Linked DNA regions of Homo sapiens. The protein of the gene in region 6 interacts with the protein of the main gene of each other region in a biochemical or structural test. Each region holds a gene or a part of one and is shown on either strand. Other genes may lie near its edges. The genes, in order: GOPC, GRID2IP, ERBB4, GARIN6, MYOT, APBA1 and PRKD2.

Region 1 (3,500 bases), on a different chromosome or scaffold from region 6:
TGCCTCCTGGGTTCAAGCGATTCTCCTACCTCAGCCTCCTGAGTAGCTGGGATTACAGGTGCCTGCCACCACGGCCAGCTAAATTTTGTATTTTTAGTAGAGATGGGGTTTCACCATGTTGGCCAGGCTGGTCTCAAACTCCTGACCTTGTGATCCATCCACCTTGGCCTCCCAAAGTGCTGGGATTACAGGTGTGAGCCACCGCACCTGGCCTACTCTTTTTTCTTATGGTAAATGAAGCATTAATCTTTTTCCTCAGAATTATTTTACAGTTGGTTTTAACTTACTGTTGTTAAATTAATACTGACAGCATTATGTATCGCAGATCTAGTTATCCATACTAAATATGTTTAGTTTACACACACAAACACTGATAGTATCTTACTGTGAAATGCTAACAACTCTGTAGAGCAGCACTTTTCAACTATTTTGTGCCTTGAGACCAGTACAGCCGATATTCACATGCATAGCAGAACTTCCATAAGGAATTCTTTTTATGATCACTGAAACCCAGTCTTTCTTGCCCTTCAAAAAAACGTGTTGGTATTTAGTTAATGACAATGATTTTATCATAATCATACACAGAATTCTGCTGTATTTATTAAGTAAATTATTAACAAACTTTGGTGACTTATTAGTACTAAATCATTTTGTGCATATTCTTTTAATGTCACATTAAAAACATGGAACAAAGAAAAAATAATTTATATCATCTTGAAGTACAAATTTTCTAGTAACTTTTTTTTTTTTTTAAATTTTGTGAGATGGGGTCTCACTCTGTCGCTCAGGATGGAGTGCAGTGGTGCAACGTTGGCTCACTGCAGCGTCCACCTTTCAGGCTCAAGTGATCCTCCCACCTCAGCCTTCCAAGTAGCTGAGACCACAGGCATGCCACCATGCCTGGTTAATTGTTAAGGTTTTGCCTTGTTGCCCTGGCTGGTTCTAGTAACTTTTAACCACATTTAAAGTAATCATTTTGTGAAAAGAAACTCTAATTAGAAGAAATATTTTTGTCCATTTATCTCATCTAAAAGCTAACATTTAATAGTATCTGAGTTCAGTGACTTTGCATGCAAGACATAGATTGACATTAATCTCATAAATTTTTTTTTAGATTTATTTGAATTAAGTATATGACTAAAGGAGTTCACATTAATTCCTTTAAAAATTTTTTTTACTGGTTTTTCCCTTGAGGATACCTGTTCTTTTCAGAGTTTTCATATTTTTTTTATATCTGAGAGACATCAAGAAGTTCGTGAGTATTAGTTTTATCACTAATTTGAGATTCATGCAAAAGCTACTTATGTTCACTAATTTTCCTGAATTCTCACTGTAGTGAATATAATGAAAAATCAATGTACTCTTTTCCCAATATGAAGGGTCCAACAGATACAATTGCTAGGACGAGATATGAAGGGACCTGCTCATGATAAGCTTTGGAACCAATTAGAAGCTGAAATACATTTGCATCGTCACAAAACTGTGATCCGAGCCTGCAGAGGACGTAATGACTTGAAACGACCAATGCAAGCACCACCAGGCCATGTATGTTTGCTTTGCTGCTGCTTCCCACCCAGCCTCTTCTTTCTTTCTTTAATCACAGTTGCTTTCCATTCTTTCCTTTATTCTAGTATTGTTTGAAACCTTTATTTAAAAGTGAAAATGGGATTCAACTTATTCAAAGTAGATGAAGTTTCAACACCCATAGAAATTTTAGTAGCTCTTCACAGACTTACTAATGCCCTGAGAGTGCTGCAGACAGTGAGCCATTGTTAGCAAATGCATATTGCTATAATGTTGGATCATATTTCCAGTTTTTCCTGGATCATGATTGGGCATGCTTGAATTTGTTTTAATCTTAGCTTAGAGTGTGTGGTCATATTGATAATTTGGCAGATATTTTGGGGTAGTTCTTTAAGGGAACTTTTAGTAACTGAATCCAAATGTAGATTCTGAACTAACATTTACACCTGTTTGGTCTTGGATTAAGATAGAATTTGAGATCTGTAGCCAGTTGTCTGCTTCTGTAGCCACCATTATATAAAAGCTTCTATCTGGATAAATCTTTATTGAATTTTATCATAACAGCTGCTTGATAATATAGACCTTAATATATGAAAGCATGTCTCCCAAGGGTTCACATATCTTAGTACCAGATAATGTATGGCCTTAAATAGTAAAATAGTTTGTTGGCTCTGCAAAGATTTTTGTAAGAAGAATTGGTATGTAAATAGAGTTGGTGGAAGAGAAGTGGGGATAGCGATAAGCACTTATGCCATTGTTTTCTAGGGCACTGGTGGTTCCCATTAACTTCTAGGTCCAGTAGATTTGGGAAATGGAGCGGTTAGGAGGAAGACAAAGTAGTTTGTATCAGATGTGTCTGAGTGATAAAAGCATGCTTGTTAAATTAGCTAAATATGAGGTTGGGGTTTTAGGTAGTGGCTGGATTATAGAAATTATTTTATACTAAATAGAGGAATTTTAACTTTAACCTGATAATCATGGAAGTTTTAAATAAAATGGCAGACTTCATAAAATTTACATTTTTTAATAGTTATTTTGGTATAGTGAAGAGGACCAAGTTGGAGTCAAGGAGATATATTAGAAAGATACTATGGTCATCCAAGGAGAAAGTGATGAGGTCAGGAGAAGTGGCATTTGAGAAGAAGGATAGATTTGAGAGGATTATAATCAGGAGGGCTTGATTGGTGACTAACTGCTTTTGGTTAAATAGTGAAAAAGAAGAGTCTGGGCTTTTAGTTTGAGCAACTGAGTGAGATCTGGCATTCACTGGGAAGGGAAATAGAAGAAAAGGAAGGATTTGGGGAAAAGATGATGAGATCAGTTTTAGACAAGTAGTGTTTGAGGTGACAATGGGGTATCCAAGATACATCCAACTGGACATATGACTCTGGATTTCAGAAGAGAAATCTGTTTTGAAGAAATATTAGGGAAACTATCCTTCTATTATACTTGAAACCTTGGAACTCATTAAGCCTGTTCCAAGTATATATGTATATATAAAGTATATATGTAGTAAAAAGAATAGGAGGCCAAGGATAGAAACTTATGGAGTGGGAGAAGGAAAAGGATCACTAAAGGAAGGAGCCTGGGATGGAGCTGTCAGATACAGGCCATCTAGGAAAGTAGTGTAATAAAAACTAACAGAGAGAGTGGGTTTCAAGGAGGGGTTGATGAACAGTATCAACTTTCTGCAAGTTTGAAGTAGGATAGTGACAAAAAGTGTTAATTGTGTGTAACAATATTGATTACTGGTGACCACAGAAAAGAAAATTCCAGTTGTGCATGTAGGGGCAAAACTCTAATTACAGAGACCAGAGGACTGAATGTGAGTGGCAAGGAAGTAGATATGATGAGGATGAACTTCGTGTAGAGGTTAAGGAAAGGGGGAGGATGGTAGTTGCTAAGGAAGATAGTGAAGGATTGAAAGGTTTTTTGTTTTGTTTTGCATTTGCACATGATCAGTATTTTAAAACTGG
Region 2 (3,500 bases), on a different chromosome or scaffold from region 6:
GCGCCCGCCATCACGCCCACCTGGCTAATTTTTTTTCTATTTTTAGTAGAGACGGGGTTTCACCGTGTCAGTTGGGATGGTCTCGATCTCCTGACCTTGTGATCCGCCTGCCTCGGCCTCCCAAAGTGCTGGGATTACAGGCATGAGCCACCGCGCCCGGCTGTCTTTCATTTTTTAGAGACAGGGTCTGGTTATGTTGCCCAGGCTGGTCTCCAACTCCTGGCCTCAAGTGATCCTCCCGCCTTGTCCTCCCAAAGCTCTGGGATTATAGGCATGAGCTGCTGTGCCCAGCTTGTTATTTATTTATTTATAGCCTGAGAGAGACTTGAACATTTATATAAGCTGCAGGGAATGGAGAAGTAGATATACTGAAAACCATGCAGGCCGGGCACAGTGGCTCACACCTGTAAACCCAGCACATTGGGAGGCTGAGGCGGGTGGATCACCTGAGGTCAGGAGCTCGAGACTGCCTGGCCAACATGGAGAAACCCTGTCTCTACTAAAAACACAAAACATTAGCTGGTTGTGGTGGCGGGTGCCTGTAATCCCAGCTACTCAGGAGGGTGAGGCAGGAGCGTCGCTTGAACCCGGGAGGCAGAGGTTGCAATGAGCCGAGATCATGCCATTGCACTCCAGCCTGGGCAATAAGAGTGACACTCCATCTCAAAAAAAACAGAAAGAAAAAAGAAAAAGAAAACCATGCATTTACCAGTCATTGATCATGGGCCTATGATGTGCAGGACAGGGGAAACAGCCATGAACAACACAGGCAAGGAGCCTGACTTCACACACCTAACATTACTGCAGGGAAAGAGACAGTAAGCAAGTGGATTAATCAATACACAAGCTATTAAAGATCATGACAGGCCAGGCACGATGGCTCAGACGTGTAATTCCAACACTTTGGGAGGCCGAGGTGGGAGGATCACCTGAGGTCAGGAGTTTGAGACCAGCCTGGCCAACATGGTGAAACCCCATCTCTACAAAAATTACCAAAATGAGCCGGGCGTGGTGGCATTTGCCTATAATCCCAGCTACTTGGGAGGCTGAGTCAGGAGAACTGCTTGAACTCAGGAGGTGGAGGTTGCAGTGAGCCAAGATCCCACCACTGCACAGAGCGACAGAGTGAGCGACAGAGTGAGACTTTCTCTCAAATAATAATAATAATAATAAAATTAAATTAAATTAGCCAAGCACAGTGGCGTGCACCTGTGATCCTGGCTACTCGGAAGGCAGAGGTGGGAGGATCGCTTGAACACAGGAGTTCAAGGCCACAGGGAGCTATGATTGCACCACTGCACTCCAGCCTGGGCAACAGAGCAAGACCCTGACTCCAGAAAAAAAAAGATGATGATGAATAAAGTGGAGGCATAAATAGGGTGAGGTGAGAGTGACGCAACCCACTTTGACAGGGTGGCCAGGAAAGGCTGCCTGATGAGATGATCTTTGAGCTGAAAGCTGAATGACAAGTAGGTGGCAGGAAGAAAGGGGTGGAGACTGGGAATGGTGAGGTGTCTGTGGCCTGGTGATTTGGCCTTGACTACAAAGGGGGCTTTTTTTTTTTTTGAGACAGAGCCTCGCTCTGTCACCAGGCTGGAGTGCAGTGGCACGATCTTGGCTCACTGCAACCTCCGCCTCCCAGGCTCAAGCAATTCTCCTGCCTCAGCCTCCCGAGTAACTGGGATTACAGGCGTTTGCCATCAGATGCTCAGCTAATTTTTGTATTTGTAGTAGAGATGGGGTTTCACCATGTTGGCCAGGCTGGTCTCGAACTCCTAACTTCAGATGATCCACCCACCTTCGCCTCCCAAAGTGCTGGGATGACAGCCGTGAGCCACCGCACCCGGCCGGAAGTGGGCCTCTTCAACCTCTGAGAGCAGAGGATGGAAGGGAAGGATGCGGAGTCTGTTGAGAAGTTTGGAGGTGGATGAGGGTGAGAGAGGCGGGGCCTGACAGCCCCAGTTCAGGCTGAAGTTGCACCCACAAGTCCTCGAGAGAGGGAGACGTGAACGACTCATGGACTCACTCAGCCGCCCAGCCTTGCTTCAGGGTCAGCTCCAGCTGTCAGTGCCCAGAGACAACCAGACCCTCAGCCAACAAGGGAAGGGTCTCATGGAGTATGTGCTTTCAGTGGCTAAACTGTATGACATGTGGGCAATTCGATGGTTTTTAATATATTCACAGGATTGTAACACCCATCACTACCATCCATTTTCAAACAATTTCATCACTCTAACAAGAAATTCTGCACTCCTTAGCCATCACTCCCTATTTCATGGTTTTATTTTCTTATTTATTTATTGAAATGGGGTCTTGATCTGTTGCCCAGACTGTATAGTGCAGTGGCACAATCTTGGCTCACTGCAGCCTCAACTTCCTGAGCTCAAGTGATCCTCTCACTTCAGCCTCACAAGTAGCTGAGACTACAGGCATGCACCACCACATCTGGCTAATTTAAAAAAAATTTGTTTGTAGAAATGGGGTCATGCTATGTTGCCCAGGATGGTCTTGAATTCCTGGTCTCAAACAATCCTCCTGCCTCGATCTCCCTAAGCACTGGGATTACAGGTGTGAACCATTGCCCCCAGCCCTGCCAGGATCTTGCCTCCCACCTACTTTGGGATTTTCTTTTTTCTTTTTTTTTTTTTTTTTTTTGAGATGGAGTTTTTGCTCTTGTTGCCTAGGCTGGAGTACAATGGCAAGATCTCGACTCACTGCAACCTCCGACTCCTGGGTTCAAGCGATTCTCCTGCCTCAGCCTCCCGAGTAGCTGGGATGAATAAAGGCACCCACCACCACGTCTGGCTAATTTTTGTATTTTTAGTAGAGACGGGGTTTCACCATGTTGGCCAGGCTGGTCTCAAACACCTGACCTCAGATGATCCGCCCCCCTTGGCCTCCCAAAGTGCTGGGATTACAGGTGTGAGCCACCGCGCCTGGCTGAGATTTTCCTCTTTGTTTTTGGCCTAGATAGCCAAGAAACTACAAATATCTCCCACATGGATGTACTGCAATTATTTAGCCCCCACTGTCAGATATTTATATTGCTGCCAACGTCTTAGTGTTAGAAATAATACACAGGTGAACCACCTCACTCATACATCATCGTGCATGTGTCTTGTCAGGATGTGTGTAAGATAAATTCCTACATGTGAGATCATTGGGTAGAAGGATGGGCTTTGGACACACTTAACAACCTGCCTTCCAGAAACGTGACCATTTGCATGCTCATTTCCAACATGACCATTTGCATGCTCATTTCCAATGTGCCCATTTGCACACTCGTTTCCAACGTGTGCATTTGCACGCTCGTTTCCACCATGTCTATTTGCATGCTCCTTTCCAACGTGATCATTTGCACACGTTTCCAACGTGTCCATTTGCACGCTCATTTCCAATGGCCACACACTCCTGTGTGCAGATGTGCCTTGATTAGTATCAGCTGGTTTGTGGACAAAGACAAAAGTTTGGAGAGAGAACTGAGGGAGTCAAAATTCAGG
Region 3 (2,793 bases), on a different chromosome or scaffold from region 6:
ACAAAGTGGGGTGTAGGATCTCAGAGATCCACTATGGCTTAAGAAAGGAACAGGACAGCATCGGGGGACTACTTTGAACCAGGGTGGTAGAAAGGGAAGAGAGCAGTGCCAGTTGTGTCAATGGGCAAAAAAGGGAAGGATTCTATTTTCCTCTAAAGGTCAGAGAGAAATACATTTTTCTTTGATTCCTAACAAGGTAATCACTTACTTGCAAAGCTGACTGTCAAAGAGTATTTTCCAGAGGAAGCATGTGAATACCCCCCGTGAAATTGGGGCTTAGAGTCATTTTAGCTTGTGACTATAGAAGCATTTACTTCTGCCCAAAATGTCACCTGGCCAGGAATTAGGTGAGGCAGGGGCCTGCAAAAGTGACAGATCCTACATTTTTGGACCTCTACAAAATCAGTGAGACTTGAACCGAGTATCTGAAATTTCTATTATTTTAGAGAGACTTTTAATGAAAAGAAAAAAGCAGCTCACACTGCTAAAAGATATTTGCCCACACAAACACAAGGGCCCCTGGCCCGACACAATGCCCACAACAGCTTCTTGTTTCCAACTGCAGAGAGAACTCAGATCTCTGGGATCAGAAAAATTTTATTAATTCTACCCAGAAGTATAAAAACTGGCCCCATTGTAATATCAGTAATAATGAGGTCTCCACTGATAATGATCTTTTAAAATTATGCCTGATCTCATCTGTATAATATTTGTTCTTAAGCAAATAGCAACCAGGCGATACCAATCTGCATTTATATGTTTACATGGGGCAAGGCTGTCCTTCAAACTGATACACACCGAAGTCCATGTACACAAACAGAGGCACAGTAAGATCCTCTGCCCACAGTATATACAGTAGAAGTTAATTTATCTGTTTCTTTTTTTTTTTTTAACAACTAGAAGCTGATGTTGTAGGATCAGCTCTAGGATCCTCTGCCCACAGTATACAGTAGAAGTTAATTTATCTGGTTTTTTTAACAACTAGAAGCTGATGCACATGGATTTCTCATTTGCCCTATAACAATCATCATTCTAATAACTAAAGTCCAAAAGAATGGCAATGCAATAGTTTGAAACGCTTGGTTTAGCATTTATTTATCAGAAAAATTGTGATTCTTTGTTGTCATTTTTGGAGGCAAGAGGGCATAGTGAGAAAAGAAAGGACATATCACCAATTAACTGTATTTTGTTTGTTTGCTAGCTAAATGACACCACTCCTTTTTTTTTTTGTCTCTGCATAAGGTAATAGAACATTTACATTTTCTTTACTTCATCTTGAAGACCCTTACTTAGTCATATGTAACATGTTTGCCTATTAAATTCTGCAAGGTGGTGTTTATTTAAAAAAATAAATAAATACAATTTTCTTTACATTTAAAAAGTGATAAAGGAATAAGAGAATGAGAAAAAATTGTTCATTGTAATGCTTTAAAGCAAGTTTTCCCAAGTGGAACCATATATGCCTACTTTCAGCTAAACCCAACAAACAACAATTTTAAATGGCAAACTTATCTTTTTACTATGCAAAATCCATCCTACATTTTTATATCCTGCATTTAACTTTGTTACATTATACTTGTGGTTAGTTTTCTAGTTTGATTTATTTAATAATATTAAAATCATTTAACATCTGATAACCTAACTAAATCTACATCTTATAGCATTATCGTGGTTCTGTCCAGTTATATACATGCTTTCATGATCACCTTTTCTATTACCTTATGAACTACATATACTAGTTAAATTATCAACAATTACAGATGGATGAATAATTCCAGTTTTGAAATAAAGGTTAGAGAGCTCTAGAAAAACTTGTATTTACATCCTTCCCTGTCAGGCTTAAACAATTTTAATTTTCTTTTCATTTTTGATACTTCAAGAAGCACATTAATAGTCCTTCCAACTTCATCTAGTAGCAGAGCCTCACACAGTCCTTTTCTTGATTTTTCCTTAGCATTGTAAGTATGCACAATCTTCATGCCATGTCTTTCCTTTAGAAGGTATTAGCTCACACACTATAACACTTAAACACTATTCCTTCTCTTAAATTAGATATTCAGTCCTTCTCCCTAATCTACAAAAAAGAATCACTTGATTTTAGTTTGTGTGTTTTAATAGAAATTTGAGTTTTGCGTTGTTTTTCATGCTATTTTAAGAATGTTACTGGAGAAAGGATTCTCATCCTAAGCTGTGCTACTAATACTATGCAGAAAACCAGGAGCTGCTTGGTAGTCTAACACCTTTTGTGGTGCAGATGCTTTGTGGTTCTGGATCTATCCTAGATCAGAGGCCATCTTTCCTCACCTGTTTACCACTTTCTTTAGGCAATCATTTAACTGCAAAATTTTTCCATACCTGCCCAAAATAGGTATAATCTACAAAGTTGGGTGATTTAAAAAATATACTCCGTGTAATTTTAATACTAATTTGTCTCAGATTTACATAATTGATTCTGCAAATTTCAATTGCTACAATTGGCCTCTGGAATCTGATATCCCCCCAAGCACTTTGAAGACTTTAACTGACATTTTAAAATTCTACCCTACTGGACTAAATAAGTTATTCTCTGGAAGGAATGAAACTTTTTTTCTCCCTCTTATACATGCTGAAATATGTTTTCCCAGGGGGGACAAAAATAAAACAAAAAACACTCAAACAACTGAAGTCAATTATATACTACAGAAATCATTCAAAAGAATTATAAAGTGGTGCTATTATAAAGCATTTGGGTCATTTTGGATTATTCCTACATGCATCTCTAGGTATTACCCAACATGTAGAAGTCTTGTGTTC
Region 4 (4,120 bases), on a different chromosome or scaffold from region 6:
GAATCACGAGGTCAGGAGTTCGAGACCAGCCTGAGCAATATGGTGAAACCCCATCTCTACTAAAAATACAAATTAGCCGGGCGTGGTGGCACACGCCTGTAGTCCCAGCTACTAGGAAAGCTGATGCAGGAGAATCACTTGAACCCAGGAGGCGGAGGTTGCAGTGAGCCAAGATCACGCCACTGATTCCAGCCCGGGTGACAGAGTGAGACTCCATCTCAAAAAAAAAAAAAAAAAAAAAAAAAAAGACTCAACTATGGCTATGGCTCTGTGTGTGTGTGTGTGTTTGTGTTCACATGGGTTATCATGTGTACTGTCATTTCAATAAAGATATTATAATCTTATTGAATTGAAAATATTTGCAATACCTAGCAAAATTCTTTACAGCTTTTTTTTTTCTCAATACAATCTGATGGTAAAGAATAGAGCATAAATGTGATGTTTAAGGCTCTTTTCATTCCATAGCCAGGGTATGAATGTCTAGGTAAAACTCAAAAATTGCATCAACAGTTTGAGGGTGAGTCAAAACATAAAATTTATCATGGCTATAGAAACAGAAAAAAAAAAATACATTGCCAATAAAATAGTTATTTCCCCTGGTAACAGAAATAAATTTCCTAATAAAAATAGAAGTTAAAAAGAAAATGAAAATTATACCTAAGCACTTTAAACATTTCACTGAACATAATTCCATATCCACAAACACATACACGTGGTCTTACATAAATTGAATCTCACCTATACTATGAGTTTGAAATCAGTTTTTCTCTTATTCTTTAAGAAAAAAAAAGGTCAGGGATATCTTTTCATGTCAATAAATAGGAAAACTACGTAATCATTTTTAGGGCTGCAGACTGTCCCGTCACAGAAGCTCCATAATTTATTTAAGCAATCCCCTATTGTAAGACACTAATGCTGTTTATAATTTTTTACTCTACAACAAACATTGATAAACATCCTGTACCAATCTGTTTACCAATTTATCCAATTCTCTCTTTAAAATAAATGTCTACAACTAGAGGAGCTGGATAAATGAGTATACAGAGAATGTATATTAAACTCTTGCCTTGCACAGAAAATTTACCTCTAACCCTTTTGAAAGCAATTTGCCAGAATGCATTAAGGTCCCTAGATGGTAGGTTGGTGGCGGGGTAGTGGTCTGCTGAGCTGTGGAGGGCGGTGGGGCTGAGGGTGGGGTGGAGAGGGCGGTGCCCCTGCTCTGAGGCAGGGACTACTGGGTGACAGAGACAAAGGGGTGTGTGATGGGGCAGGTCACAATGGGTAGGGGAGGATAAAAGTGGTCCTGCGGGGTGGTTTAGCAGCAGTGGATGGTTCAGGTTGGGAAGAAGAGCAGTGGGATTGCCAGTTAAGGTTGTGGAATCAAAGAGCAAAGGCTGTTGTGAAGTGGAATATCAGGCTCAAATGGAGGTCCCTCCCGAATGAGCACTGACACCTGTGTGCCCGGACATCCACGAGGGCCCCAACACCTGTGCTCCTGACAGCTCCATGCACTAAGCAGGGCACAGTCTGGATCCAGGGGACTGACTGTCTCTGGCATTGAGCGGTTGGTAATCAATACCCCACCCTCCCTGTTCTCAGTCACTTGGGGACAAAAAAGAAAGCCTGCAGAACACGACTGCTGGCCCACCTGCCAGAGTAGCCAAGGAAACAGGATGCCCGCTAAAGCATGTTAAGGAAGGTGTGGAGCAGCTGCTGGGAACTGTCTTGATTTAAAGGAAGACATGGAGGACTGCTGTATGCTACCGTATTACACGGCCCAAAGCAGCCCCGCAATGGGCATGTTTAACACCTCCATGGGGAAGCTGCAGCGGCAACTGTACAAAGGCGAGTATACTATATTCAGGTATGCACCCATGTTTGAGAGCGACTTTATCCAGATCAGCAAAAGAGGAGAAGTGATTGACGTGCACAACCGTGCCCGAATGGTAACAATGGGCATCGTTCGCACCAGCCCCTGCCTCACACTACCTGATGTCATGCTGCTGGCCCGACCAGCTGCTGTCTGTGACAATGCCAGGTGTGGTCCTGCCACCCAGAAAAGAGAAAGTCCGCCTGCAGAGATCTTAGAACTAACCAGGCTGCTTCCCTTGATGTTTGTGAAAATAACCATCCACAACAGCGTAAAAAAACAGCTCCACCTGAAGCTTGCCACGGGCCGCTCTTTTTATCTTCAGCTGTGTCCTCCATCGGATGCAAGTGAAGACCTTTTTGTTCACTGGGAAAACCTTGTTTACATCCTGAGACCACCAGTGGAGGCTTACAGTGATACCAGGGCTATCCTAGCTGGGAACACATTGGACTCATCTGTGTTGGAGGAAGTGCAGAGGAGCCCAGTGGTGAGTCTATGCAGAGACTAGATGGGGCCTGGATGCTTTGGGGGAGAGCAGGTACAGGTCCTGTAAAGCCTTTGGTGCTGCAGCTCACCTGGGAAATGCATTGCATTTGGAAGGTCTGAAGGCCAAATGAGCTTCCATTTGGAGGCCATGGTACATTGAGGAGGTTCCTAGTGCTTCTCCAGGGTTCTCCAAGCCTGAATTTCAGAGATTTCTTAGCTGTCAGCAACTCTTCATTTTATATCCACAGCTGTTCATTTTATATCAATGTTGTAATGCTGTCCAAAGCATCCTGACCAGTCTATTCTGAAACACATACTATGACCTAGGCAGGCTGATATGTTGTAGGACGTGTCTCCCTGCAATTGCCACTTATATACATTGGTGGCAACACAACATGTTTGTGTACTTGTGCAATAATTTCTTTTTGTTGTTTACCTATAGGAAGAGAAAGGAGATCTTGCTGGTCTCACTGTCTTTGCTTATTTGTTCTCTCCCTAGGGATATGCCATGAAGTTTTGTGAAGAGAAGGAGCAATTCAGAATCAGTAGACTTCACATGAATGCTGAAATGTTTGGGTCCACCTATTGTGATTATACAATAGAGATATGAATCCAACATACCTCCCACATATACTACGTTCAAGAGTTCACACACCCCTGCAGTCATAAAACCTATAGTGCCTGATGAAGGGGCAGGGTAGCAACAGCAGTAGTGATGACAGTAAGCACCACCACAGGTACCATGGATGTGGCTGCAACCAAGTCTGCAGACTCAGGAGAGAAACACAGCACTGGCAAAAGCAGCCTTCAGAGGTCCAGGAGGAAGTATAGCCAGCATGGCTATTAGTGGGTGCTTCCATGTCTTAATCTTGTTATAGCAAGGGCTGCATGCACATTCTTGTCCTAAAAGGGTACTTCAAGCATATCAGTAAGTGCTACTGGCCTCTCCCTAGAGAGCAGTATGAATGTGGTGGCTACAGGAGCAGAGAGATACTGAGAAGGCTGTTGCATTGACAGTATCTCTCTGCTACTCAAAGGCTGACTCTCTGCTACTCAGCATTGGGAGTCAGTTATCTCAACTCTGCAGGATGAGGCCACATGCGTGAATGGGATGGAAGCCAGAGGGTCTCTACCTAGCTGGATTGACTCTGCAGTAATAACCTCAAAGCCCAGTACTACACATGGTGCAGAGGTGGACATCTCACCTAAGACTGTGGAGGGGAACAATGTGATTCACCATAATAAAATCCATCAACTCAAATTATCTGCTCTAATAACATATGCTCTATTGACAGGAAGGGTAGCAATAAAACTAATGGCAATTTATGATCAGGCTCTGAAAACTATCTTTAACTTTCCCTTAACTTTATATTTTTTAAATAAATTAATAGATGACAGAATAAAATGTTGAAGATTACTCTCAGATATGATCCTACATTAGGAGAATTATTCTAAAACTGTTTTCCAAAATATAAAATGAGAACCCAGGAATACACACACACAGACTCTCTCTCTCTCTCCTCTCTCTCTCCAGGTTTGAATCACAGCATTGCCACACATTAACTGTGAGTTTCAGTAGATTGTTTCTTTAAATGGTCACCTTGAGACCATACATGTATAATATCTGGAACATAGTAGGCACTGTGTAAATGGTAGTGTTGAGAAACAAATTCTGAGTTTAATCATACTTTCCAGAAAGGGCTTAATTTTCCCAGTCTCTTCATTCTTGATTTCCTTTCTTAAATCTTAATTAACTGCTTTGCA
Region 5 (4,175 bases), on a different chromosome or scaffold from region 6:
TTAAACATGCTTAGTTGGTATATGGAAGATGAAGGCAAATTATTACTATAATGATTTGTTCCTGGAAGGGTGGGGCCCTGAATTTGGGGCCACAAGCCTGGAATTACGGAAGGTTGTAAGGAATCAGAAGCAACCTTGGTCTGCTCTTCCTTGTTGAGATCCTGAGAATACTGTGCTCCTGGCTTTGGTAGAGTGACCTTCTCTTGAAGAATATTGTTCCTTCAAAAGGAGAAAATAATTGTTACAATATTTGCTTAAACAATAACATTGTTTATTTGACATCTTTCAGATCTGATGTGCTTTTTCTTTTCCTTTCTTTCCTTCCTTCCTTTTGTGTGTGTGTGTGTGTGTGTGTGTGTGTGTGTGTGTGTCTTGCTTAATCGCCCAGGCGAACATAGCTCACTGTAGCCCCTCCAACTCCTGGGCACAAGCGATCCTTCCACTGCACCCTCCAGAGTAAGGACTACACATATAAGCCACCACGCCTGGCTAATTTTTCTTTTTTTCTTTCTTTCTTTTTTTTTTTTTTTTTTAGTAGAGACAGGGTTTCACTATGTTGCCTAGACTAGTCTTAAACTCTTAGCTGCAAGCAATCCTCCCGCCTCAGCCCCCCTTGGTGCTGGAGTTACAGGTATGAGCCCCCGCACCCAGCTGAGTGGATTGCTTTTTAACCTTACAATTCACTGCTTCTTTTTCTCTCCTTGATTCCAAATTGACCATATTACTAAACTAGATATTAATTAAGGAGTGACTGTGTGTATATGTTTGTGTAGAACATATGTTACAGGCTGCATTCCAGAGCCACTTATACATTTTTCTGTTTTTATTATGTATTTTTAAACAGAATCATACCTTATAATTCTGTTATTTTTAGATTATACTTCCTAGTTGTTGGTCTTGATGTTCTTTTAATTATCTAGAGTTTTACTTTTTATTATTTGTTTAGTATGTATTTTAGACTAATTTTGTTTTTTGGTCTTTTTTTTCTTTTTTTTGCCACACCTTTGGAGATCTCAGACTAATTTTGAAATTGCTTTAGCTCTTTTACTTTTTCTTTTCAAATGGCAAACAGGAAGCATAGAAGTAAATAAGACACATATGAAACTAGTCTATACCTTACCAAGAAAAGACAGGTGCCATTCCTCCTACTTAGCTCTGTAGTGGGCCTCCTGCCTTCCTACAGTACATCCTCATTTTTTCTCAGATGAAACATTTGCCATGAAAATCAACCTTGAAGGATTATATTTGTCTCTGATTTTTTTTCCATTAGTATGGTAAACCTAAGCGGGACTATATATAGACATTACACACAAAGACTAGTCCTATAAATTGTTTTCACACTAATCCTGTTTTCATTGAAAATATCAGATAAATTGATTCAAAATACATTTGCCTATTTTGTTTCATCTGGTATAAGCCAATACTGAGATAATGACAAATCAAACTTTTAACTGAAAAATTAACCAAATTGTTTGTCATCATTGAAACGAAGTCTTCTAATTATTTTAGTTACTGTCTTGGATAAAATGTTAATAAAACTTTTCCAGACCAAAGAGTTTCATCCTAAATAATAGGATACCTTCAAAAAATAGTATTTCAAAGTTGCCTATGTAGTTTAGAGTTAAATTAAAACTAGCAATTTTAGGAAAAAACAGAAATGCAACTAAACAGCCAAGAGAAAGACGCTATTGAGAAAGAATACTTAAAAAGTTAAATATTCCTTAATTTCAAGTTTATGAACACAAATACATTAAACTAGAATGCATTTTAGAAATGAACTACTTTAGGCATTTAAATTGTTGGGGAAAAACATCCTGAAGGAGGGCCTTGAGTAGATCTAAAAAAAAAGTCTATTTCAAGGCAAGTAGTTTTGTAGTTATCGGTTTATTCAGTCTGTTGCAGAATTGAATCCAGAGTTTGATTCCTAAATTTCTTTCTGGGCAGGTACATTATTGAGACTCATTTCAGATAGCAAGGAATAAACCGCTTATGAAATAGTAGATATTTTCCAGAAACAGTTCTCTTTTTTTCTTTACATATATTTTCAGAATGGCAACTGTCTTGTACATGTTGATATTGGCCTACATTGTTAATAATTAGTGATATTTTTAAAAGCCCAATTAAAAATATGTTATTTCATAAGTTTCATTTTATCCATGTGTCAAAATTTTATGCAGACATTTACGCAGGTGATCCTGTATTTTCTTTATGTTTGTAGTTACTGTTCAACAATTTAATTCTATAATAGATTCTGTTATATGACAGGGTCATTTTATTCCAAATAATGTTAAATGAATTTCAAAGATTTTTATAAATAAAGTACTATTCAGTCTCCTTTTTAAAAAATCTTAACATTTTTTTCCTGTCTCTAATATAGCATAGACTTGCACAGAAGACTGATAGAGGATATGTTGCGTTCATAAGACATCACCACAATTACATCAGATCAAGTGTCCCTTTTCAAGGAAAAATGGTGATTTAAAAATAATGACACACAGCTATCTTTCCTTCTATCATTTGTATAATGCCTTCCAGTCTCAATGAAATGAATGAGTCGCTTTCTCTTTAAATTTTTGTGTAATACCATTATAATGTTGTGGCTTTCAAACTTTTTATCTGAAAATCATCTTTGTATACACTCATCTGATTTGGACAAAAAACAAAAACAAGACCTAAAAGTGTAGTAGGAATAAAGAAGGGACTTACCCGTAGTTCCAGAGGGTGCCAGCTGGGTTTAACCCACTATTGAAGGGAAGGAAGAGGCATCTCCTTCCCTCACAGACTAATCTAGTGGCTCTGTGCTTAGTATTATAGCACCACTGACTTTTATCAGCTGCCAAACAGTGACATCTGATGTGCTTGCCTGTCCATCTACCTATGCTGGCATGTCAAAGTAAGAGTCCACAATCTAAACAATATCTCACGTGTCTTAGTGGTATTTAAGGAGTGGGATTACATGAGCTTCTTTTGCAAGCCTCTTTATTTCAGACGTGAATTTTGACTATGAACTTTAGCAAGCTCATGTGAGGGAAGGGCAGTGAATAGGGAAATGGGAAAAATAGAAAAAAAACCCTCTTATTTCTTTATTATGGTGGGGACTTTGAATTTTCCCAGTTTAAGAGAGAGGACTAAAGGGAAAATAATATTTCAAGAGTGGAGTTCTTCTATCTATTATACTAAGACTTCTCCAGGAATAAGACCAGTGATAGATGGGCTCCCAATTGATTTGTATTGCATAATTCTTCATCTGAAGTCTTTTTTCTTTTGCCTAATGAGAGTAGGATTCAATAATAGATTTGAGGTCTCTCAGTACTAGCAGTTTGTTCCGAGGTGGAGGGCAGTCTGGGCAAAGCAGGAGACCGAGGTCATAGTGACATGTCACTGGGAAGGTAGGGAGGTGGAAAAACATGATGGTGTTTCTTGAGCAAGTTTTCTGAATCTGTATGGCATATGCCCCTTTTGCCTAGTACTTTTATTCTGAAAGAGTTTTGAAACACTTAAGAAACAACCAAACAAATAAGCAATCTATATAATTAGAGCTGTCAATGCATGTTCATCTCCCTTTATTCCTAACAGTTAGTTTCCTTTCACTTTTTGTCACAGAGACCATCATGGTATTTAGATTTCCATTTTTGTGCAGGGAAGTAAATAATTGCAGAAGAATAAAATGTCGAATCAGCAAATGTGGTGAAGTAGGGTAGGTGGCATGAGGATTGGGCCAAGGGAGTAGAATTATCTCCATGGGGTGGCTTCAGTTCCCCTCCCTCATGGGTAGATACCCCAATCTTGATTGAATTAACATGTATATTAGAATCCAGCAAATAGATGTTTGAGCACATATGAGCCATATAAAATCCTTCACAGCTGGCCAAGTAGGTGTACCTTTCTTTGGTGTTCAAAGAAAGCTTGATAATTTCTGCCTGGGCGTGCAGCCCTTAGTAGAAAAAGCATGCTAGACTTGGTGAGTAGGTGGTTGCCTACAAAGTCTTATTTCAGGAGTCTCCCAAAATATTCTTCAACATCTGTTCACTGATATTTCAAATTCCAGTAATACAGACAAAACCTTTCCATCTAAATTAGAGAGACTTAAAATACAAATGCAAGTGATAGGATAAAAGTAATAATAGCCAATATATAGCATTTATTATGAGTAAGACACTCCTTCAAGCATTTTA
Region 6 (3,500 bases):
CTTGGATTTCTGAGCTGCCATTTTATTGGAGGTGCCAATTAAATAAAGGGTCATTTGGTCCCCATGACAACAGTGGAACGGTACAGCAAATTAAGAAATCTGGTGGGAGGGGAAGCCCAGAGAAGAGGGGCGAAGAGAGAAAAGAGAAGCCAGAATGGTCTCTATAGCAACGGGAGAGCAGAACCATGATGCTCCTGGGGAAGCAAGGGAAGCTGTGCGCTATTCTAAAACAGAGCAAAAACCCAGAGGGCAGGACCACAGAGGCAAAGGCACAGAAAGAGGCAGCCTGTAAAATGTTCCACCCACCAATAATTATGCCTTGGGAATTAATTATGACCCAAAAAATAAGGTAGGAAGAGTAAGGCAAGTCAATACCTATAATTCTACTCTAGAAATTGATTTCCTGTAACCTGGGGGGACAATAGTCAACCAGTATTGAAGTGGCCAGATGCAGAATGCACACTTTGGATCCCTGTTCCTGAAAGTGTAGCCTGCAGACTGGTGATGCCATCCCCGCCGCAAAGCCTGCCAAAAATGCAGAATTCCACCCTATACCTGCTGAATCAGACCTGCATTCTAACAAGATCCCCAGGTGATTCCAATCAGTTTGAGAAGCACTGATTCATCAGGATGAGAGTTGCTTGTCAAAGTCACTGCAAAGAGCATGGACATACACTGAAACAAATTTGAACACAGCCTTGAAGTGGTCCAGATGCTGCTCTGCAGTGGCCCGAGGGGTGGGGGTAGGGCAGTGTGCACATCTGTCCAGGTGCAGGCAAAAAGGGGTGTGTTTTCTAGAGAATTTTAAAAAGGTGATACGACCCACTGATGTCAGTCTGTATTTGGTACTGGTGATTCTGGCTGTTATCAGTGGTTACACCTCCCACCAGCCAGGGTGGTCCACGGACGGACCATCACATTTCCCCATTCAACAAGCGGCGCACTGTGGCAGGGAGGAAGTTCAGCTGTGCTCTAATCGGGGTCTGCCCTGCTAAGTACTTCTTCACTATGGGTGGCCACGAAAGCACTGCTTTTCTTTTCTTACTCTTCATCTTCATCAGTTACATCTCTTTTATCACCACTCGGCCTTTTAATTTTCTGGTTCTATAGAGATTACATTTATAGACATCAAAGTTCAGCTCCTCAAACAATCCATTTCCCCTTAGGAAACTGTGCAGACAGAGCTCCGTCTGTACTCCAGCAAGCTTTGCTTCCACCTTGATGCTGTGGCAGCTGCAGAGGGAGTCAGGCTGCCCTCATAGCCTCACTGCTTCCCTCCTCTGGTCCCCACGCAGATAAGGAAGGAGCGATTCGCAGGAGGGTGGGGACTCACTGGCCAGCTGGGGGCCCTGGGCAAGTCTCCTGTGCCTTTAGAGTCTCTGATGGCCCATCTGTGCACCTAGCATCTGCTGTCCCCCTTGTGGGCTGTCCTGAGGAGGAAAGGAGGTGACTCCAGGCCATGAGCTGGAGTCTTAAGGGCCTCAGGAAGCGCGGCTTGTTCCTGCCCAGGCCCCATCCCCACCTTTACTTAAGTCCTCCCCTTGTCTGAGTCTGTTCTTAGTCTGCCATGACAAAGTACCACAGACTAGGTGGCTTATAAACAACAGGCATTTATCCCTCACAGTTCTGGAGGCTGGAAGTCTGAGCTCAGCGTACCAGCACTGTCAGGTTCTGGCAAGAGCCCCTTCTGAGTTGCAGATGGCCAACTTCTAGCATCTTCACATACCAAAAGAGAGCTTGCTGGGGTCCCTTTTTTAAGGGCACTAATCCCAACCATGAGGGCTCCACCCTCCTGCTAATCACTTCCTAAAGGCTCCACCTCCAAATAACATCACATTGGGATTAGGGTTTCAATATGTATTTGGAGGGAACACAAATATTACTCAATACTTTACTTAACCCCCTATCCCCGCTCCTCCTCCCCAACCCTTCTAGACTCAGACCAACTCCCCACAAACCATCCCTAACCAGCTTCCCTCTCTCATCGATTTCTCTCTCTTGCATCTGAACTCCTATGCCGCTCAGGCAGTTTCTCAACCTCAGCACTACCTACATTTGGGGCTGGATAACTCTGTGCTGTGGGGCTGTCCTGTGCATTGTAGGATGTTTGACAGTATCCCTGGCCTCTACCCACTGGATGCTGGCAGCACCTTCTCCTCCGTGACAACCCAAACAGTCTCCATACATTTTGGGGGATGAAGATCACCCCTGGCTGAGAAGTACTGCCCCATGGTCTGGCCTTGGGCCTAGCATTTCACCTGACACCCTCCCTGGGATGACTCTGTATTGGAGGCTGTATGACCACAGACGATTACATCATCTTGCTGTGCCTCAGCTTCCTAGCTTGTACAATGGGTACAAAATAGTACCTGCCCACAGAATGCTGCCCCGAAGGCTCAGCAAGTCAGTCCACACATATTCTCAGAGCATCCAGAGCACAGACACACAGCACTGAGCACTGTGAGCCATAAGTCCTTTCACTTCTCCTCAAACCGACCAAGCTCCCTGGGGGGCAGGGACTGTGTCCACGGGGCCCCTGGGTCCCACAGCCCCTCAGCAGTTCTCATGCATGCACCCAAGGTGTTTAATAAGCAACTTGCTCACTGGCAGGAGCGACTTGTGGTCCTGCCTCCCTAGCCCCACCCCCCCGCTTGCCTCTCCATGCAATCACAGCAACACCAGACCAGCCGTTCCGGGCCAGGCTCAGACCCCATCTCTCCCTGACTCAACACCGGCCCCTGTCCATCAATTCAAGCAGAAACTTCCAAACGCCACTTCCCTTTCTGCTACCTACCTAGGTTTTATTCCTTCAAGGTCAACTTTAAAATCACATAAAATTGTCCATCTAATCACTTGTAGCCTCTCACCTTTATGTTGGCCGCAGAGCCCTTGCACGTCTCTAATTATCCTGCACATGCACACTGGCAAGCCAGCTTCCTCAGAGCGCAGCTCAGTGCCTCACAGAGGCCCAATTAAACCTTTCTGAATGAATATCCATGTTCAAAGTTGATTCTCTAATCTTACCTTTAACGTGTATTAAGCAAGAGGTAGAATTTATTTAAGTATAAGATATAAGAAAAAGAAATTAAAGGAGGCCAAAGAGGACTATTTCTTTCCAGATGTGATTATCTTATGTGAAATTAGAATTTACTCCATTTCATTAAAAACAAAAAGTCACCATCCATGTGTCCTATACACTCACCTTCACCTCCCACCCCCACCCCCTTAGCTGAGGAGGCTGGCTTTGTGATTTTTCTTTTGCTCACAATGACTATTTGCACGAATTAATCCCCTTCCTTCTCCCTCTCTCTCACACATGCACATACGCACACAGCTATGTTCCAGCTAAGTCTTTCAGGAAACCCCTACAGGACCCCAAAAAACGCTGTGGAATCTCAGTCTAGCTACAGTACCGCAGCACTTGGTGCAGAGCTACTGGGGTCTACAGATGCCATCATGGAGGAGGAACATCCTGGTCACACTGGCCATGCATTCAGCAA
Region 7 (3,500 bases), on a different chromosome or scaffold from region 6:
ACAGGCACCCGCCCAGGCCCAGCTACTTTTTTTGTATTTTTAGTAGAGACAGGGTTTTGCCATGTTGGTCAGGCTGGTCTTGAACTCCCAACCTCAGGTAATCCACCTGCCTCGGCCTCCCAAAGTGCTGGGATTACAGGCATGAGCCACCGCGCCTGACCTATATTCCTCTTCTTTTTTTTTTTTTTTTTTTTTTAAGATAGGGGGTCTTGCTATGTTGCCCAGGGTGGTCTTGAACTTCTGCGCTCAAGCAATCCTCCCACCTCAGCCTCCCAAAGTTCTGGGATTACAGGTGTGTGCCACTGTGCCCCCAGCCTACACATTTTTAAACTATACACGGAGTTCATACTTAGTCAGCTCCACTGGAATGTGAGCTCAGGTGCATGAGGGCAAGGATATTTTCTGCCCTCCCAGGTGCCTAGGACAGGACTGGCTCAGATCAGGCACTTCCTATCTGGGTGTGGCGTGAATGTTTATTGAGAAAGCACAGTTCACACAGGCGCTGGAGGGTGACAGCCCAGATCCCAGCTCTACCACTTCACTTGCTAGGCGCTTCCCTGTGTGCCACGGTTTCCTCCTGGGGCGATGAGGTACCTACCCCACGGGGTGATAAACCTGGGGTAGGGGTAAGGGGGCACCCTCACAGGTGCACTGGAAAATATTTAATGAGCACCTGCTGTGTTCAAGCACACAGCTATGAACAAAAGAGGTAAAAGTCTGCCCTTCTGGAGCTGACTGCCTCAGTGGGGAGACAGCTAATAAATGCATCCATAGCATCGGGTATTGGTAATGGTGATAAAAACAAGAGGAGATGGAGAATGGGGGACATGCTATCTTAGGGTCCTTCAAGGAGACCTCGCTGAGGAAGTGGCAGTTGAAGGGAGGGGAGGGAAGGAGCCTTGTGGGGCTCTGGGGGAAAAGGCTTCCAGGCAGAGGCAACAGCGAGTGCAAAGGCCCTGGGGTGGAGGCACCGTGTTCCAGGGACAGCAAAGAGACCCATGTAGCTGCAGCAGGGAGGGCGAGGGGAAGAGGGTTGGACAGAAAGGGGATGGGTAAGCCAGTCACAGTGACGACAGAGTGTTTCCTGCGGTGCCTCCCAACCCAAGCAGCCTGAAGCCGCAGGTTCCCTTTCTCCCACGTCTTTCCTGGGAATGCCTAGTAACACCGTCATACACTGTCAAGAGTTGGACCTTGAGGGATTGGGGGTGGCGGGTGTGGGGAGAGGCAGCCCATTTCACAGATGGGGAAACTGAGTCTCAGGCAAAGAGATGTGATCAAGGCCACCCAGGTTCTGATCTAGCACAGGGATCCAGAGATTGTTGGTTCCAGAGTTGAGCAAGTCACTTAATCTCTCAAATCTCAAACTCCTGACCTCAAGTGATCCCCCCACTTCTGCCTCCCAAAGTGTTGGGATTACAGGCATGAGCCACCATGCCCAGCAGGCCACTTAATCTCTGTAGACCTTCCTTACTGTACTAACAGCATCTGCACAAATGAGGGAGGTGAGGCCCAGAGAGGTTGAATCACTTACCCAGTGTCACACAGCTGGCTCCACAATTGCTGGACTAAATACCAATTAGCACTTACTGGAGGTCCTCTGTATGCCAGGCACTGTACTAAGCTCCGTAGAAAGGTTTCCATTCCTCATAGCATCCCCTTTGGGTGGACAAACTGAGGCATGAAGAGGTTAGGTAATTTGCTAGGCAGCCTGACTTCAGAAAGGCCTACTACAGAAGCCCTCTCAAGAATCTCCTTCTGGGCCAGCGTGGTGGCTCACACCTGTAAGCACTCTGGGAGGCCGAGGCGGATGGATCTCGTGAAGGGATTCTAAGGGTGGGACTAGGGGCAGGAGTTAGGGAAGGAGTTGAGGCAAAGAGTTCGAGACCAGCCTGGCCAACATGGTGAAACCTCATCACTACTAAAAATACAAAAATTAGCCAGGGGTGGTGGCGTGCACCTAATGGTCACCGTGATTGTCCCGGCCACTCAGGAGGCTGAGGCACGAGAATCGCTTGAACCCGGGAGGCAGAGGTTGCAGTGAGCCGAGATCGCACCACTGCATTCCAGCCTGGGTGACAGAGCGAGCCTCTTAAAAACAAACAAAAAGCAACTCCCGGGTGTGTGTTGGGGGGAAAATGTCAAAACAAACCAAACAAACAAAAACAGTCCCCAACTCCCTAGTTTCCCAGAGATGCCCCCTGCATTCCCAAGCAGCATGGTCACTTTCTGCATGTGACTTCTCACCCCTTCCTCTTCCTTCGCAGCTCCCTGGGGTACATCCCCCTAATGAGGGTGGTGCAATCGGTGCGACACACGACGCGGAAATCCAGCACCACGCTGCGGGAGGGTTGGGTGGTTCATTACAGCAACAAGGACACGCTGGTGAGTGGCCGGGGCGGGGCCGGGTACGGCGGAGCGAAGGCTGGAAGAGGGGCGGCTCAGCTTGAGTAGGCGGGGCTAGGTGGGTGGGGCTGGAGCTAGGCGCGAGCGGGGCCAGTAGTGGGCTGGGCCGTGCTGGAGGCGGGGCTAGAATTAGAAGTGTGGGCTGTAAGGGTGGGACTACGGGCAGGAGTTAGGGAAGACCCGGGGCTCAGGGCAAGGTCAGGGGCGGGGCTAGAGTTAGGGGAGGAGCTTGGCTGGAGGAAGAGGGCTAAGTGGGGGCGAGTCTGGGGTTAGGGCGTGGGGGCTGGGCTAGGGTTAAGGCTAGGGGCGGGGCTGGGGTTAGGGCGTGTGGTGGGGTGGGGTTACGGCGTGGGGTAGGTGCTAGAGTTACGGCGTGCACGTGGTGCTCCAGGCACCTGGAGCCCCAAGCAGCTCCACGGGATAGGGACTGGGCAGGAAAGTCTGGCGGTTCACGTGACTCTTCAAACATCTCTGCAGAGAAAGCGGCACTATTGGCGCCTGGACTGCAAGTGTATCACGCTCTTCCAGAACAACACGACCAACAGATACTATAAGGTAAGCCTCCGGGCTTTCAGCTCCCTCGGACTTCCCGCTGTGCCCACAAACTTTCCCACACCTCCTCCTACCCCCAGTTACTCCAGACAGATCCTGCAAATCACACCCTCTGCCCACCCCCAGCCTCCCTGCTTCCAGCTCATCAGCAAGTGCTGCCCATCCGATTCTGGCCCCACCACTTTCCAGCCAGGGGGACTCCGGGCAGGTTCCCTTACTTCTCAGTGCCTCACGCTTCTCACCTGCAAAATGCCTCAAATGCTAATACTCACCTCAGGGCTGGTGCGAGAATTCAAAGAGCCAATCCACTAAACCAATTGGCTTAAGGCGTGGTATATATTAAGCTCCCAGTAATTCTAAGGCTGTTCTCACTATTCCTTTATTTTTTGTTATTTATTTATTTTTTGAGACAGAGTCTCACTCTGTCGCCCAGCTGGAGTGCAGTGGCGCGATCTCGGCTCACTGCAACCTCCGCTTCCCGGGTTCAAGCGATTCTCCTGCCTCAGCCTCCCACCCTAGGACTACAGGTGAATGCCACCACACCC

The links.
Region 1: the proteins of APBA1 (region 6) and GOPC interact in a test that uses a peptide from one of them, tested with the Homo sapiens proteins (one large-scale study listed by IntAct).
Region 2: the proteins of APBA1 (region 6) and GRID2IP interact in a test that uses a peptide from one of them, tested with the Homo sapiens proteins (one large-scale study listed by IntAct).
Region 3: the proteins of APBA1 (region 6) and ERBB4 interact in a test that uses a peptide from one of them, tested with the Homo sapiens proteins (one large-scale study listed by IntAct).
Region 4: the proteins of APBA1 (region 6) and GARIN6 interact in a test that uses a peptide from one of them, tested with the Homo sapiens proteins (one large-scale study listed by IntAct).
Region 5: the proteins of APBA1 (region 6) and MYOT interact in a test that uses a peptide from one of them, tested with the Homo sapiens proteins (one large-scale study listed by IntAct).
Region 7: the proteins of APBA1 (region 6) and PRKD2 interact in a test that uses a peptide from one of them, tested with the Homo sapiens proteins (one large-scale study listed by IntAct).

The regions. Positions count from the first base shown.
Region 1 is NC_000006.12:117,571,512-117,575,011, reverse strand, and holds part of GOPC (Golgi-associated PDZ and coiled-coil motif-containing protein), read left to right. Parts: intron 1-1,379; coding exon 1,380-1,545; intron 1,546-3,500.
Region 2 is NC_000007.14:6,541,462-6,544,961, reverse strand, and holds part of GRID2IP (delphilin), read left to right. Parts: intron 1-3,500.
Region 3 is NC_000002.12:211,378,010-211,380,802, forward strand, and holds part of ERBB4 (receptor tyrosine-protein kinase erbB-4 isoform JM-a/CYT-1 precursor), read right to left. Parts: 3' UTR 1-2,793. UniProt on the Homo sapiens protein: Tyrosine-protein kinase that plays an essential role as cell surface receptor for neuregulins and EGF family members and regulates development of the heart, the central nervous system and the mammary gland, gene transcription, cell proliferation, differentiation, migration and apoptosis.
Region 4 is NC_000012.12:99,646,433-99,650,552, forward strand, and holds GARIN6 (Golgi-associated RAB2 interactor protein 6), read left to right. Parts: upstream 1-1,320; 5' UTR 1,321-1,742; coding exon 1,743-2,357; intron 2,358-2,855; coding exon 2,856-2,966; 3' UTR 2,967-3,682; downstream 3,683-4,120.
Region 5 is NC_000005.10:137,866,485-137,870,659, reverse strand, and holds the start of MYOT (myotilin), read right to left. Parts: upstream 2,801-4,175; 5' UTR 2,707-2,800; intron 220-2,706; 5' UTR 9-219; coding exon 1-8. UniProt on the Homo sapiens protein: Component of a complex of multiple actin cross-linking proteins. Involved in the control of myofibril assembly and stability at the Z lines in muscle cells.
Region 6 is NC_000009.12:69,445,372-69,448,871, forward strand, and holds part of APBA1 (amyloid-beta A4 precursor protein-binding family A member 1), read right to left. Parts: intron 1-3,500. UniProt on the Homo sapiens protein: Putative function in synaptic vesicle exocytosis by binding to Munc18-1, an essential component of the synaptic vesicle exocytotic machinery. May modulate processing of the amyloid-beta precursor protein (APP) and hence formation of APP-beta.
Region 7 is NC_000019.10:46,696,615-46,700,114, reverse strand, and holds part of PRKD2 (serine/threonine-protein kinase D2), read left to right. Parts: intron 1-2,264; coding exon 2,265-2,382; intron 2,383-2,880; coding exon 2,881-2,958; intron 2,959-3,500.